Linked DNA regions of Homo sapiens: region 1 is linked to region 2. A link means that fine-mapping ties the variant in region 2 to the expression of a gene that starts in the linked region. Tissue or cell type: whole blood. Region 2 holds a variant in brackets; the other region holds the start of a gene. All regions are shown on one strand. Distances are from middle to middle.

What was found. PIP is the estimated chance that this variant, and not a neighbour inherited with it, causes the effect.
Region 1: it holds the start of SFN, and the variant in region 2 is fine-mapped to the expression of SFN in whole blood (TOPMed, PIP above 0.99).

Annotation. Positions count from the first base shown.
Region 1 is chr1:26,859,900-26,866,212 of GRCh38, forward strand. It overlaps SFN (stratifin), which reads left to right and starts at 3,250. Exons shown (of 1, transcript NM_006142.5): 1 at 3,250-4,557. The coding sequence starts at 3,314. The coding sequence ends at 4,060. RefSeq lists a silencer at 2,916-3,065 and enhancers at 2,935-3,814, 4,959-5,088, 5,299-5,608.
Region 2 is chr1:26,831,798-26,840,057 of GRCh38, forward strand. ZDHHC18 (zDHHC palmitoyltransferase 18) reads left to right here. Exons shown (of 8, transcript NM_032283.3): 2 at 650-810. Among named protein-coding and RNA genes, the nearest start is that of ZDHHC18, 9.2 kb to the left of the region's middle. RefSeq lists enhancers at 1,932-2,031, 6,903-7,172, 7,333-7,652. The variant C/T (reference allele first, on the strand shown) is at 3,382.

The sequences.
Region 1 (6,313 bases), 27 kb after region 2:
CATTTCACAGAACCTAACTCTATGTTAGTGCTTTGTGAGTATATGTTGATCATAATAAAGTTGACGGGATTTTTTCACATGATAATAATAGTTGTCATCTGGCCGGGCATGGTGGCTTATGCCTATAATTTCAGCACTTTGGAAGGCTGAGGCAGGTGGATCACTTGAGGTCAGCTGTTCGAGACCAGCCTGGCCAACATGGTGAAACCACATCTCTACTTAAAAAAAAAAAAAATACAAAAATTAGCTGGGTGTGGTGGTGCACCCTTGTAATCCCAGCTACTCGGGAGGCTGAGGCAGGAGAATCACTTGAACCCAGGAGGTGGAGGTTGCAGTGAGCTGAGATTGTGCCACTACACTCCAGCCTGGGTGACAAGAGCGAAACTCCGTCTCAAAAAAAAGAAAATAATAATAATAATAGTTGCCATCCATTCTACTGTGCTTTCCATTAACTCGTGTAATCCTCACAAGTCCCATTTTATAGTTACAGGAACTGAGGCTCACAGAGCTTAAATCACTTGGCCAAGGCCACAAACAGCTATAAGAATTACATTTAGGCAGTCTGATTCCAAAGATACTAGTCTATTCTGTATCTCATAGACAAACAATACATATTCACTTTTTTGTTGTTGTTTTGTTTTGAGACGGAGTCTTGCTCTGTCACCCAGGCTGGAGTGCAGTGGCGCCATCTCGGCTCACTGCAAGCTCCGCCTCCCGGGTTCAAGCGATTCTCCTGCCTCAGCCTCCCGAGTAGCTGGGACTACAGGCATGTGCCACCATGCCCGGCTAATTTTTTGTATTTTTAGTAGAGACAGGGTTTTCCTGGGTTAGCCAGAATGGTCTCGATCTCCTGACCTTGTGATCCACCCACCTCAGCCTCCCAAAGTGCTGAGATGACAGGCGTGAGCCACCGCGTCCGACCTATATTCACTATTTATAAATTGGAGAGAATAAGAAAATCAAAAGGGCCAGGTGTAGTGACTCACACCTGTAATCCCAGCACTTTGGGAAGCCAAGGCAGGAGGATTGCTTGAACCCAGAAGTTCGAGACCAGCCTGGGCAACATGGTGAGACCCTGTCTCTACAAAAAAATACAAAAATTAGCTGGGCGTTGTGGTGAGCACCTTATTCTTAGGAAGCTGAGGCAGGAGGATCACCTGAGGCCAAGGAGGTTGAGACTGCAGTGAGCTGTGATCATACCACTGTACTTCAGCCTGGACATCAGAGTAAGACCCTATCTCTAAAAAGGAAATTGAGAAGAAAGAAAATCAAAGGGAAGCAAAATCACTCACTCTCACTACCTCAAGATACCCTCTAGAAGTTGGTATTTTAGTGTGGTTCCTATTGTTTTCTGTGTCAGTTCTCTGATTTGAGCAAAATCTTTGGGACGTCAAACTTAAAATCCCCTTTACTTCCTTGGAAACCCTGTAGCATTAGCCCAGACATGTCCCTACTCCTCCTTGTGGCAAAGAGAAGGATCTCGTCTTTGGTCCCCAGAGTTCTGGCCTAAGCCTCCCTCCAGGAGGGAAGATGAGTGTTCAGACACTCAGAGTAGCTGGGGGAGACACAGGCCTGTGAAATTATCCTGGCTCAACTATTAGGTCGGCAGAATCCCAGTGAAGGGAGCCCTACCTCTGAGCCCCATCTAAGCTTTGGCTATGGGTGGGGCAGATAAGCAGGAATCCATCCCTATAGGCTCAATGCCAACACCCTTAGGTGAAACTCTTGATGAAACTTGAGGCCAGGGCTCCGGCAAGCAGGGAAAGAACGTTGGCAACAGAGGTCTCCATCTCTGAGGACTCTGCCAGGGGTCAGAGATGGGGCAATGGTCAAAAGGAAGGAACAGGCCAGGCACAGTGGCTCATGCCCATAATCCCAGCACTTTGGGAGGCTGAGGCAGGAGGATCGCTTGAGCCCAGGAGTTTGAGACCTGCCTGGGCAATGTAGTGAGATCTGCTCTCTATTTAAAAAAAAAAAAAAGGAAAGAACAAGTAAACTTCTGAGAAACAGGCTGGGGGAGGCATCACGTAGCTGGAATTGCTGCCCCATAAAACAGAATGGTATGTGTCACTGCCACCTCCCTTTCTCAGTCCTCTCTCTCCCCAGGTTGCTAGCGTCCCCCCTGGGGGATCAAACTGGACTGCTTCCCAGCCTCAGACAGAGAGCAGTCTGAGTCAGGCAGGAAAGTGGGACAGCCGGGGAGCTGGACCCCACCCTCTGTGAGCCCCGCTGGTACCTGATGGCATGTGGCTTGGAGAGGGCAGGTGACCTGGCGTGGAGGGCCAGAGGGTAAATCCTCAAACAAGTGGCAACAGGCCACCAACTTGAAAGGGAAAATTGTGTAGTGATGGGAAATGTGTCCAACAAACCTACTGGGTGACTAATTACAAAGGCTGGGCTGGAGCTTCAGAGGCTGCTTGTTAAACACTTCATTAAGCGGCACTCTGAAAGCTGCCACCTGCGCATTCTGGGAGCTCAGAGGGGACCCTGAGGGGGAATGAGGCCTGGAGGATGGAACCATCTTCAGGTAGACTGAGAAGGAGCCTGGATCTCACTTCCAAACACAGTCTGGAGCTCATAGGTCAGAGGCCTCAATGGGAGAAAAGCTAAAGGAAGAGGGTGCAGAAAGGAGTTTCAGGGAATTGGTGGCTATGTGACTTTGAGCAAATCTCACCCCTCTCTGAGACTTAGTGTTCCCATCTCTATGGTCCTGTGTGTGTCACAGAGACATGGTGGGGATTAAATTCGATCGTGAATATGAAAGTGCTTGGGAAACTCCATGGCCCTACCTAAACATGAGTTATCCTCACCTGAACCAAGGGGGGAAGTTACCTGGCAGGATTAGGAACCCCATCCTCCTGAACCTTTATGGGCTCTGTCGAGGCTGAAGCAGCCAGGGGCTAAAGCCGTCCTTAGCCCCTGGAAGGGCACTGTGAAAGTGGATCTGATTTGAGAAGCCGTTTCCTGATGTGGGCAGCCATGTGATGCCAGCCCCGAACAAGAGGGGGCAGCCTGGAGCCTGGAAAGGTGCCAGTGCAGGTGGGGCCCACGCCCAGATTTCTCCTGCTGACTGTTCTGATGATTCACCCCCACATCCCAGCCTTTTTACCTTTACTGCAGAGCCGGAAAGGGTGTGGGGAAGAGAGGAGAGGGAGGCAGGTCTTGGGCCCTGGTCCCGCCCCCTGCTCCTCCCCACCCTTCTCTGGGCCTGGCCACCCAGCCAAAAGGCAGGCCAAGAGCAGGAGAGACACAGAGTCCGGCATTGGTCCCAGGCAGCAGTTAGCCCGCCGCCCGCCTGTGTGTCCCCAGAGCCATGGAGAGAGCCAGTCTGATCCAGAAGGCCAAGCTGGCAGAGCAGGCCGAACGCTATGAGGACATGGCAGCCTTCATGAAAGGCGCCGTGGAGAAGGGCGAGGAGCTCTCCTGCGAAGAGCGAAACCTGCTCTCAGTAGCCTATAAGAACGTGGTGGGCGGCCAGAGGGCTGCCTGGAGGGTGCTGTCCAGTATTGAGCAGAAAAGCAACGAGGAGGGCTCGGAGGAGAAGGGGCCCGAGGTGCGTGAGTACCGGGAGAAGGTGGAGACTGAGCTCCAGGGCGTGTGCGACACCGTGCTGGGCCTGCTGGACAGCCACCTCATCAAGGAGGCCGGGGACGCCGAGAGCCGGGTCTTCTACCTGAAGATGAAGGGTGACTACTACCGCTACCTGGCCGAGGTGGCCACCGGTGACGACAAGAAGCGCATCATTGACTCAGCCCGGTCAGCCTACCAGGAGGCCATGGACATCAGCAAGAAGGAGATGCCGCCCACCAACCCCATCCGCCTGGGCCTGGCCCTGAACTTTTCCGTCTTCCACTACGAGATCGCCAACAGCCCCGAGGAGGCCATCTCTCTGGCCAAGACCACTTTCGACGAGGCCATGGCTGATCTGCACACCCTCAGCGAGGACTCCTACAAAGACAGCACCCTCATCATGCAGCTGCTGCGAGACAACCTGACACTGTGGACGGCCGACAACGCCGGGGAAGAGGGGGGCGAGGCTCCCCAGGAGCCCCAGAGCTGAGTGTTGCCCGCCACCGCCCCGCCCTGCCCCCTCCAGTCCCCCACCCTGCCGAGAGGACTAGTATGGGGTGGGAGGCCCCACCCTTCTCCCCTAGGCGCTGTTCTTGCTCCAAAGGGCTCCGTGGAGAGGGACTGGCAGAGCTGAGGCCACCTGGGGCTGGGGATCCCACTCTTCTTGCAGCTGTTGAGCGCACCTAACCACTGGTCATGCCCCCACCCCTGCTCTCCGCACCCGCTTCCTCCCGACCCCAGGACCAGGCTACTTCTCCCCTCCTCTTGCCTCCCTCCTGCCCCTGCTGCCTCTGATCGTAGGAATTGAGGAGTGTCCCGCCTTGTGGCTGAGAACTGGACAGTGGCAGGGGCTGGAGATGGGTGTGTGTGTGTGTGTGTGTGTGTGTGTGTGTGTGCGCGCGCGCCAGTGCAAGACCGAGATTGAGGGAAAGCATGTCTGCTGGGTGTGACCATGTTTCCTCTCAATAAAGTTCCCCTGTGACACTCCTCCTGTCTCTCTTCCAGTTCTTGGCGATGGGCTGGGAGTGGGACTGGAATCTGACTTAGAGACCCTGACTTTGGACCTCTGAGTTAGGGCCCTGAACTCCCTAGGTGGCTCAGTGGCCCGCACGCAAGACTTTGAGTCCAGGTGAGGCCGGGGTCCGGCTCTCTCCATCACGGCGGCCCCAGTCAAACTGGACGGGACCGGGAGGGTCGGGTGAACCCACAGGAGGCGCCGTGGCTCCTCTGCCGGGCTGAGGGGAGGTGAGTGGGAGCCACGGCGCGGGAGGCTGACGAGCTCTGGTGGAGCGGGGCAGGAAATAGTGAAGTCTCCGGCGTGAGATCTAAGGACAGCGCCGCAGTAGTGAGCGGCACTGAGCACCCGATTTGCAGGCGGGTCACAGTTTCATCAAGGGCTCAGATCTCAGCGGAGGGGAGTACGATCTGAGGAAGGGGTATAGCGCCGCCAAAAAAGCCTAGATCTTAGGAGAGGGTCACGTCCCACAGAGTTCGGAGATGGAGACAAAAGGAAACGGGCTGAAGGGGAGGAAGGACGAGCTGGGTGGGAAGGGCCGCTGGGAGCTGTGCCTACCGAGCCCGCTGCCTGAGCTCTCTGCAGCCAGCAACACGCCGGAACCTGCAGCCGCCTTGCTCCGTCCCGCCTTCGCAGCCCTGGACTGGAGGCGGGGCCCGAGGCCAATACCGCCCAATCACAGGAGGGAGCTGCCCCAGGGTACCGCCCCGGGGGCCTGACTGGCCAATGGGAAAGTGAGCGGCGGAACGCGCGCGGCGAGTTTCCCGCCGCCCGCCAGGCCTGGCGGACACCACGACTCGCTGACTGACTGAGAGGCGCCCCCGCCGCCCGCTGAGCGCCGAGGGGCGGAGCTTTCCCGGTTTCACTCAGACAAGTTGCCGCCCGTCCGGCCCGAGAGCTGGGAACCCTCTAGAGCAGCGGGACGAGCCAGGATCGCAAAATGCAGTGCTTGCCCGTTGAGTCATCAGCTCACCCGGCTGGGCCTGGGCCGGGCCGGCCGCGGGGGTTGGCTGGAAAAAGGCCGCCAAGATGCCCCCACCACACTCCGAAATCCAAGCAGCCCTGGACCTGTCGCCGAGAGGCTTGGATTGTGTCCCTGGCTGGCTGTGCGACCTTGGAAAAGCCGTTATACCTCCCTGGGCCTCAGTTTCCCTCTTGTATCATAAGGGGCTTGGACTAAAGGCTAACACAAGAGTGAAAATGGCGGTTTTGGCCGGGCGCGGTGGCTCACGCCTGTAATCCCAGCACTCTGGGAGGCCGAGGCGGGCGTATCACGAGGTCAGGAGATCGAGGCCATCCTGGCTATCACAATGAAACCCCGTCTCTACTAAAAATACAAAAAATTAGCCGGGAGTGATGGCGGGCACCTGTAGTACCAGCTACTCGGGAGGCTGAGGTAGGAGAATGGCATGAGCCCAGGAGGCGGAGCTTGCAGTGAGCCGAGATCACGCCACTGCACTCCAGCCTGGGCGACAGAGCGAGACTCGGTCCCCCCACCCAAGAAAAAGAGAAAATTTGCGATTTTGGACTCAGACAGCCTGGGTTTGACTCCCAGCCTGCCTTGGCCAAGGCTCTTAATCTTGCTTACCTTTGTGTCCTCATTTATAAACAGGGGAACTGAAAAACAGTACCTTCCTTTTATAGTTGCTGTAAAGTAACCCATAGGACAGACTCAACAAATGTTAGCTTTTTTTTTTTTTTTAAGACAGATTCTCGCTCTGTCGCCCA
Region 2 (8,260 bases):
ATGCAGTTCCCCCAGCCCTCTACTCATTCTTCAGGTTGGAGCTTAGGATTGTCTCCTTCAGGTTGCCTTTCCTGACTGTGCTACTGCGTTCCCCTCCCCCACTAGAGCACACATCACCCTGTGTGGCAATTCCCTGTTTACATGTCTTGTTTTCCCCACTAGACCATAAGCCACAAGGGGGAGGGACTCTTGTCTTATCCGTCGTCATTATTCCTGCTGCTTATTGAAGGTGTTGCCTGCCACAGAGAAGACCTCAGTAAATATTTGTGGACTGAGTGAGTGAATGAATGAGTGAATGAACACTGCAGGATGGTTTGTCTCAGGTGACAGTCCACTAGTGTCTGCCTGAAGCTCTGTGTGTAGAGGGATTCTCTGGATGCAGAGGTTAGGAGTGCTGGGATCTATTGGACACATCTGCCATGTGCTCTGGAGGAAAGTATATCACAAGGATCAATTAGTGATGTCTGTTCCCGGTACTTATTGGGGAGTGGCTGCACTCATCAAGGAGCTGTGCCTCTGCCTCAGAGCGAGGCTGTATTCAAGATTTTGGTGGTGGTTGTTGGAATGACAGCGCCTGCCACGTGCTGTAGCCCTGTGCCGCAGGGAGCCCTTGGGGTGTCTGCTGATCTCTCTCCATCTCTCGTTCTAGCTGTCCCTACCTGGCTCGCAAGCTGACCCTTGCCATCCCCATCATCGCTGCCATCCTCTTCTTCTTCGTCATGAGCTGCCTGCTGCAGACAAGCTTCACCGACCCTGGGATCCTGCCCCGGGCCACTGTCTGTGAAGCAGCCGCCCTGGAGAAACAGATCGGTGAGGTTTCTACTCCCAGCTGAAGCTGGGTCTCCATAGCTCCACATTCCCTGACTTGGGAGGAGGCCTGGTTTTCTCTTCCAAAACTATACTAGGAACTGGGGATGCAGTCGTGAGCAAGGCAGGCTGGAGCTGACACTGGCACAGAGGGAGACAGATGATCAACAAGTGAGCAAATAAGTAAGCAAGAAATGCTGGCCAGCCAGCAAAGGCCCCGATGGCAGCCAGCGTGGAGCTGAGTAGTTCCTGGGGGCTAGGCACTGTTTTAAGCTCTTTATATGCATGATCTTATTTAATCCCCCAGTAATCCTATGAGGTAGGTACTGTTGTCATTCTCCTTTTACTGATTAATTAAATCAAGGCAAAAGAGGGTCCAAGATCACAAAGTAAGTAGAAGAGCTGAGATGAGACCTCAGTCTAGAGCACCTGCTCTTAAACATTCATATACACTTATTCATTCACTCATCAAACATTTATTGACCCCCTACTATGTGCCAGGCACTTTTCTAGATGTGATACAGCAGTGAACAAAACTGACAATAGTCCCTGTCCTCATGGAGCTTGACAGTTGAGGAGGAGGAAAGAGACAATAAATAACAAATAATTAAATATCTAGGATATCAGACAGAGAAGAAAGGAGGGAAGGAGGATGAAGGCTACAGGGAGGGTGTGTGATTTTACATAGGGTGGCCAGGGAACATCTTGTGAAGGAGGTGACATCTGAGCAAAGAAGCACCGGCCTGAACAGATGAGGGCTTGACGGTGGGGTTATCTAGGGAAGAGCCCAGTAGGTGTTGGGGAGTGGGCTAGTTTAGGTCAGGTGGTCAGGGGAGACCTCTAGGAGGAGGCGGCACTGGAGATGAGTGTGGTAGAAATACGGGGATCTGGGAAAAGTAAGGCCAAAGCCCAGAGTGGCAAACAGCCTGGGCGTGTGTGAGGAACGGCAGTGGCTGGAAAGACCCTGTGCTCCCAGGCAGCCCAGGTGGCCCTTGATTCCTTTCAGACTGCTGTGTGGGTTCCGGGGTGGCGGGGTACTGGGCCAGGTCCCTAATCTCAGCTTGCTGCACCCCAGCTCTTCCTGCTGAGAAGTGACGTGGCTACTTGCACACCTCGGGGGTTTCCGGTCCGTGGTTAGCTCCTTCCCCTAACAGCATGGTGTTCACACAGGCTTTTAAACACCCAGCTGGCCCTGAAGACATCTAGTGGCCTGTAAATGTCAGAGCCCTGCTGCATCCATCGCTAGAAATCATTTCACTAATACTCTGTGCAGCAGGGAGGGAGGGAGGGCGAGCAGCTGGAGAGGATGTTCTCTGGGCTCTGTCTGCTCTTTGTCTCATTCCTCTGCCCAGCCCCATCCTCAGCCACGCCTGCGAGGGCCACCTCCTCTCACCTACATCCAGCGTCCTACCCCTTCAAACTCTGGGTCCCTGGCCACTCCTTCAGGATCCCACGGTCTGACCTGGGCTGGCCCACCTGGCAGCTGGGGAGGCCCAGCTGTGCCCCGTTCTTCCTCCCCTTCTGGTCAGGGCTAATCATGAGGCAGGATTATTGTCCAGCTCAGCCGGACCCAGAGGTCTGGCTGCCTGGAATCCTCGGCCTCCTGTGAGCTGCGTGGATCACAGTGACAGCAGTAATCCCCTTCTTGGAAAGAGCTTGGCCGTGTGCTGAGTGCTTTCCATCTATTATCCCCACAAATCTTCACAACAGCCCAGTGAGGGCGACCCTGTTAACCAATTGTACTGATGGAGAAACGGAGGCAGGTGATCACAGGGCCAGGATAAAGAAGCAGAGACAGAGTGTGTGCCTTTCACTCCCAAACCCCTTGCTTTCTCTTCTGAGATGGCAGCAGGGACACATCTCCTTCATCCTCTTCTCCACTTGTTTCCTGTGCTCTGGGAAGCCTTCTTGACCCCAGTTGGGCCAGGCCTTCCATTGCACATTCCCAGAGCACCTTCTCCTTCCTTCTCTGAACCTGTGCTGCAACGGTGGTCATTACAAAATCATCCTTTCTGCTGGCCTGTGAGGGCATGGAATTCCAGCATCTTGTTCACCTTGTCGCCATGTAGAAGGCTCAGTGACGTTGGCTAAATGAGTAAATGAATGACTGAAGAATAGGTGAGCTTCTGTGAAGGCCCTCCTTGCTCTGTCAGGGTGACAGGTGAGGAAACAGTCAGGACATCTCCCAGTTGGGCATCATGGGTTTGTTCATTTGTGTGTTAATTCTATATGCTGACCCCTGACAGCAGAGTGAAGGCAGGTGGGGGCCAACAATGAATCTGATAGGAGCTTACTCTCATGGGTTCCAGACAAGTTGGCCCCAGGTGGGAGCCCTGACCAGCCACTGCCAGTGAGATCAGGCTTTAGAAGAGGGTCAGAGGAGTCAGGAGCATCTTCTGCCTGGGGGACTGGAGAAGCTTCCTGGAGAAGTGATGCTTGAGCTAAGTCTTTAAGTTTGGGTGGAATTCAAGCACAGGAGCTGTGCGGAGGCAGCCCTTCAGGCAGACAAAGCTGAGGGAAGAGAGAGTGGCAGAGGGAAGGAGGAGGGATGGGAACGGGCCACTGAGCAGGCCA[C/T]GTTGGCTAGAATATGAGGAGCACTTCAGATAGTTAGGGATATTAGAGATATTCCAGTTGGAAGGATGGGGTGGAATCAATCTTGTAGGGCGCTGAATGTCCCTAAGACTTTTCTTGGCGAACAGGTGCAAAGTGCAAAAGTGGCATTTTGGAGGCCTTTGAATTCTCAAACTTGAATAGAAGCCAAATTTTTGGGTGTGACCAGGAGACTTCTAACTAATTAAAGTAAAACATATTTCCCAGGGCTGGCACAGTGGCTCACGCCTGTAATCCCAGCACTTTGGGAGGCCGAGGCGGGCGGATCACAAGGTCAGGAGATTGAGACCATCCTGGCCAACATGGTGAAACCCTGTCTCTAGTAAAAATACAAAAATTAGCTGGGCATGGTGGCGTGTGCCTGTAATCCCAGCTACTCAGGAGGCTGAGGCAGAATAATCGCTTGAACCAGGGAGTCGGAGGTTGCAGTGAGCCAAGGTTGCGCCATTGCACTCCAGCCTGGTGACAGAGCAAGACTCCGTCTCAAAAAACAAAAAAAACCAAAAACATATTTCCCCGAAAATGATCAGGACTAAGATCACTGAACCTTTTCCAGAAGGTTGGGAGCTGTCTCTGAGGCAGGTGGTGCTGTTCATGTGAGCATGAACTGATTACCTGGTCCTAGGCTCATGTAGACAGTGTGGGCTTTTCCCTTTGGCACCCCAGCCCAGCAACTCCAGCCCAACAGGTCTGGCCCAGGGCTCCTGCCCTGTGGGGACAGTCTGAGGTAGAGTGACCAGCTCCTCCCAGTTTACCCAGGACCACCTGGAAAGTCTCCTGTCTTAGGAAACCACTCAATCCCAGGAAAATCAGGGCACTCGGTCACCCTCATCTGAGATCCTGTCTTGCCGGCTGGTGGGCTGTGCAGCTGGCTCACCCTGCAGGCTCTAGGCAGTTGGGAAGAGCAATATTGCTCCCAGAAGCTCCTGGTCTGATGGGAGGTGATAGAGACATCCAAATCCAAGTGACAGATGCTCACTTAGACCCTGTTACAGTTCACATGACGGACACAGAGGCTGCGTCTCTCTCCACTGCCATACACCAGCTCCCAGACCCCATCTCCTTTGTCTCCAGGACGTCTCTGCCCACTTCCCCTGGACAGACCTGCCTCGTGTTCCACCTGAACTGGCTCAGGGCTCTGCAGAACAGGCCCTGACTGGGCCTTTCCCTTCAATTGTAGTTATCTCTCCAAGATCCCAAATTTGTTCTCCCCACCCCTGCCCTGTCCCCCCACAAACCCCACAGAATTTGGGTGACTCTCTGGTGCCCTCAGCATATCAGTGATATGAGTCCAGCCTTTGTGATTTTTCCTTCTGCATCCCGCCTTGTACCTTCATTTCTTTTTTTTTCTTTTTTTCTTTTTTTTTTTTTTGAGACGGAGTCTTGCTCCGTTGCCCAGGCTGGAGTGCAGTGGCACAATCTCAGCTCACTGCAACCTCTGCCTCCCAGGTTCATGCCATTCTCCTGCCTCAGCCTCCCGAGTAGCTGGGACTACAGGCACCTGCTACCACGCCCAGCTAATTTTTCGTATTTTTAGTAGAGACGGGGTTTCACTGTGTTAGCCAGGATGGTCTCGATCTCCTGACCTTGTGATCCGCCCGTCTCAGCCTCCCAAAGTGCTGGGATTACAGGCATGAGCCACCGCATCTGGCTGTACCTTCATTTCTTTAGTATTTTCCTCCTAAATGGCTCATCTTTAAATATATATGTATAATATATATATTTCATATACATTAAATATATATTAAATGCAGCTGGGCGCAGTGGCTCATGCCTGTAATCCCAGCACATTGGGAGGCCGAAGCAGGTGGATCACAAGGTCAGGAGATCGAGACCATCCTGGCTAACAAGGTGAAGCCCCATCTCTACTAAAAAAAATACAAAAAAAATTAGCTGGGTGTGGTGGCGGCCACCTGTAGTCCCAGCTACTCGGGAGGCTGAGGCAGGAGAATGGTGTGAACCTGGGAGGCGGAGCTTGCAGTGAGCCGAGATGGCGCCACTGCACTCCAGCCTGGGCGACAGAGTGAGACTCTGTCTCAAAAAAAATATATATATATATATATAAAATATACATTTATATATTTACTACATATGTATAATATATAACATATTTAATATGTATAATATATTTAACATATTTAATATGTATAATATACATTTTACATCTATATTTAATATGCATAATATGTATTTAACATATATTTAATATGTATAATATATTTAACATATTTAATATATTATGTATATTATTTATTTATTTATTTATTTATTTATTTATTTTTTGAGACAGAGTCTCGCTCTGTCACCCAGGCTGGAGTGCAATGGTGTGATCTCAGCTTACTGCAGCCTCCACCTCCTGGGTTCAAGTGACTCTCCTGCCTCAGCCTCCCAAGTAGCTGCGATTACAGGCATGCACCACCATGCCTGGCTAATTTTTGTATCTTTAGTAGAGATGGGGTTTCACCATGTTGGCCAGGCTGGTCTTGAACTTCTGACCTCAGGTGATCCACCTGCCTCAGCCTCCCAAAGTGCTGGGATTACAGGCATGATCCACCGTGCCCAGCCCCTCTTCTATCTTCTTGAAAACTCACTCATGAGATTAAGGCAAGCTGCAGTCTACCCCAGCCACTGCTCTTCTCCTACTGGTCCCTGGCACCCCCAGCCACGCTGTGCACTGGATGCCTCAGTGCGTTTGCTTGTGCTTGTGCTGTCCCCGCCTGCCGTGGTGAGCCAGAGTGCTCATTCTTTCTGATCCAGCTTTGCTGTTACTTCTTTTGTTGCTTGCTTTTTTTTTTTTTTAAGACAGGGTTTTGCTCTTGTTGCCCAGGCTGGAGTGCAGTGGTGAGATCTCGGCTCACCACAACCTCTGCCTCTCGGGTTCAAGCGATTCTCCTGCCTCAGCCTCCCGAGTAGCTGGGATTATGGGCATGCACCACCATGCACCCTAATTTTGTATTTTTAGTAGAGATGGAGTTTCTCCATGTTGGTCAGGCTGATCTCAAACTCCCGACCTCCGGTGATCCGCCCGCCTCAGCCTCCCAAAGTGCTGGAATTACAGGTGTGAGCCACTGTGCCTGGCCCCTTGCTTTCTTTTTAAATTATTTTTTGTAGAAACAGGGTCTTGCTGTGTTGCCCAGGCTGATCTCTCAAACTCCTGGACTCAAGCAGTCCTCCAGCCTTACCCTCCCAAAGTGTTGGGATTACAGTCACGAGCCACTGCACTCGGCCTGTTGCTTTCTTGAATGCTGCTTCCTGCCTCCACCCCACATATTTCCCTCTGTGTTCTTGAGGCATTGAGTATAGGCACCAGTAATGTCATTAATTGAATAGCTATTTAGGTCAGATCTTGATATTATGTTATTTCTGATTTGTGTAAAATTTTACAAGGTTGATGTCATCATTACCCATTCTACAGGTGAGGAAAGTGAGGCTTAGAGATTGATCAGCTTCTTAAGTTTACAGGCTAACAATTGGCCATGCCAGGGTTCAAAATAAGATTAGGCAGGCCCAGAGTCACCACACAGAGGCACTGCCTTGTAGGAGGACTCTTAATTATCCACTTCTGTCTGACTCTGCCCTCAGGCGGGCTCTTCCTGTATCCACAGGCCTAGCACTAAGCCTGGTATGTGGTGAAGGCCCCATGAACCCCAGAGATGGACAGAAGTGGTCTGGGAGGGTTATGGTGACCTAGCACTCGAGGCCTGGGAGCTGTGGCTGACCTTGAGCTGGCCTTAGAGGCGGGGAGACTGCAGTCCTGCAGCTGTTTCCTCTGCAGGTGACAACAGTGGAAGGGCAGAGGGCAGTCAGGGCCTTCTCAGCAGCCCGCAGCCAGCCCTGGGGAACTTCCACAGCCCCAGCCTTTCAGGCTCTGACCGCAGAAGGCCTGCCTGCTCCTCTCCGAGAGCTGTCTTAGGGTGGGGAAATTCCTTTGCCCTCACAGCCATTCAGTGACGAGTAGCCTTGCTTTTCGTCTCATTTTCACATCCTCAGAGCTTTGGTTTCTGCCTGGAAGGCAGCAGGAGGGCCTTGCTGGCATAAGGGCACCTTTTTACTTGGGAAGAGCCTGGCATAGCAGAAACAGCCCTGGAGTAGATCTTAGATTCCCTGAGGGCAGGGATAGCATCACTTACCATCACTCCCTTCTTTCTTCTTTTCTACAACAAATATTTTTTGAACATCCACAGTATGTCAGGCAGGCACAGGGTGAACAAAACCAATATCTTTGACTCATTTCTATGAATTTGCCCCTTACCTTCCCTGCCACCCCCAGGCCTTGTACAGTAACTTGCACATAGTAGGTGCTCATGTGTGAAAGAGTGAACAAATGAGTGCCCTGGAAGACAAGGGTCCTAGTTTCAGCCCCACCTTCTATTATTGGAGTGAACTTGCTTTCCCATCTGTAACTCACAGGCACGGATCCCCTTGCCTAGCCCAGAGCAGTCTCTGTGATTGAGTGAGACTAGGAATGTCAGCACACTTTGTAAGTCACTTTTCTCTATTGAAACTGAAGAGACTTGAGTCTTTTGGTCAGGAATGGAGAGTGGACTTGCTCCAGGTGCTAACAAGCTGCCATCGGTAGTGGCTGCCAGGAGGAGCAGGTTGAGGAGGATTCTGAGGCTGAGTTTGGGGCGGTGATGGGTCAGCACTGTCCGGTCTGAGAATCAGCAATGGGAGAGCTGCTTGTCTTCCCCCATGAAGGGTGCAGCCCCTGCAGAGCCTCCTTTGTCCCAACTCTGGCGACTTTGATTTAGCACCAGGTGGACTCTTGCTCCAGCATGACACAGCGCTCTGCCTCCCCTGGCTCCTGGCAGCCTCAGGAAGCCGGGGTACAGAGCTTCATTTG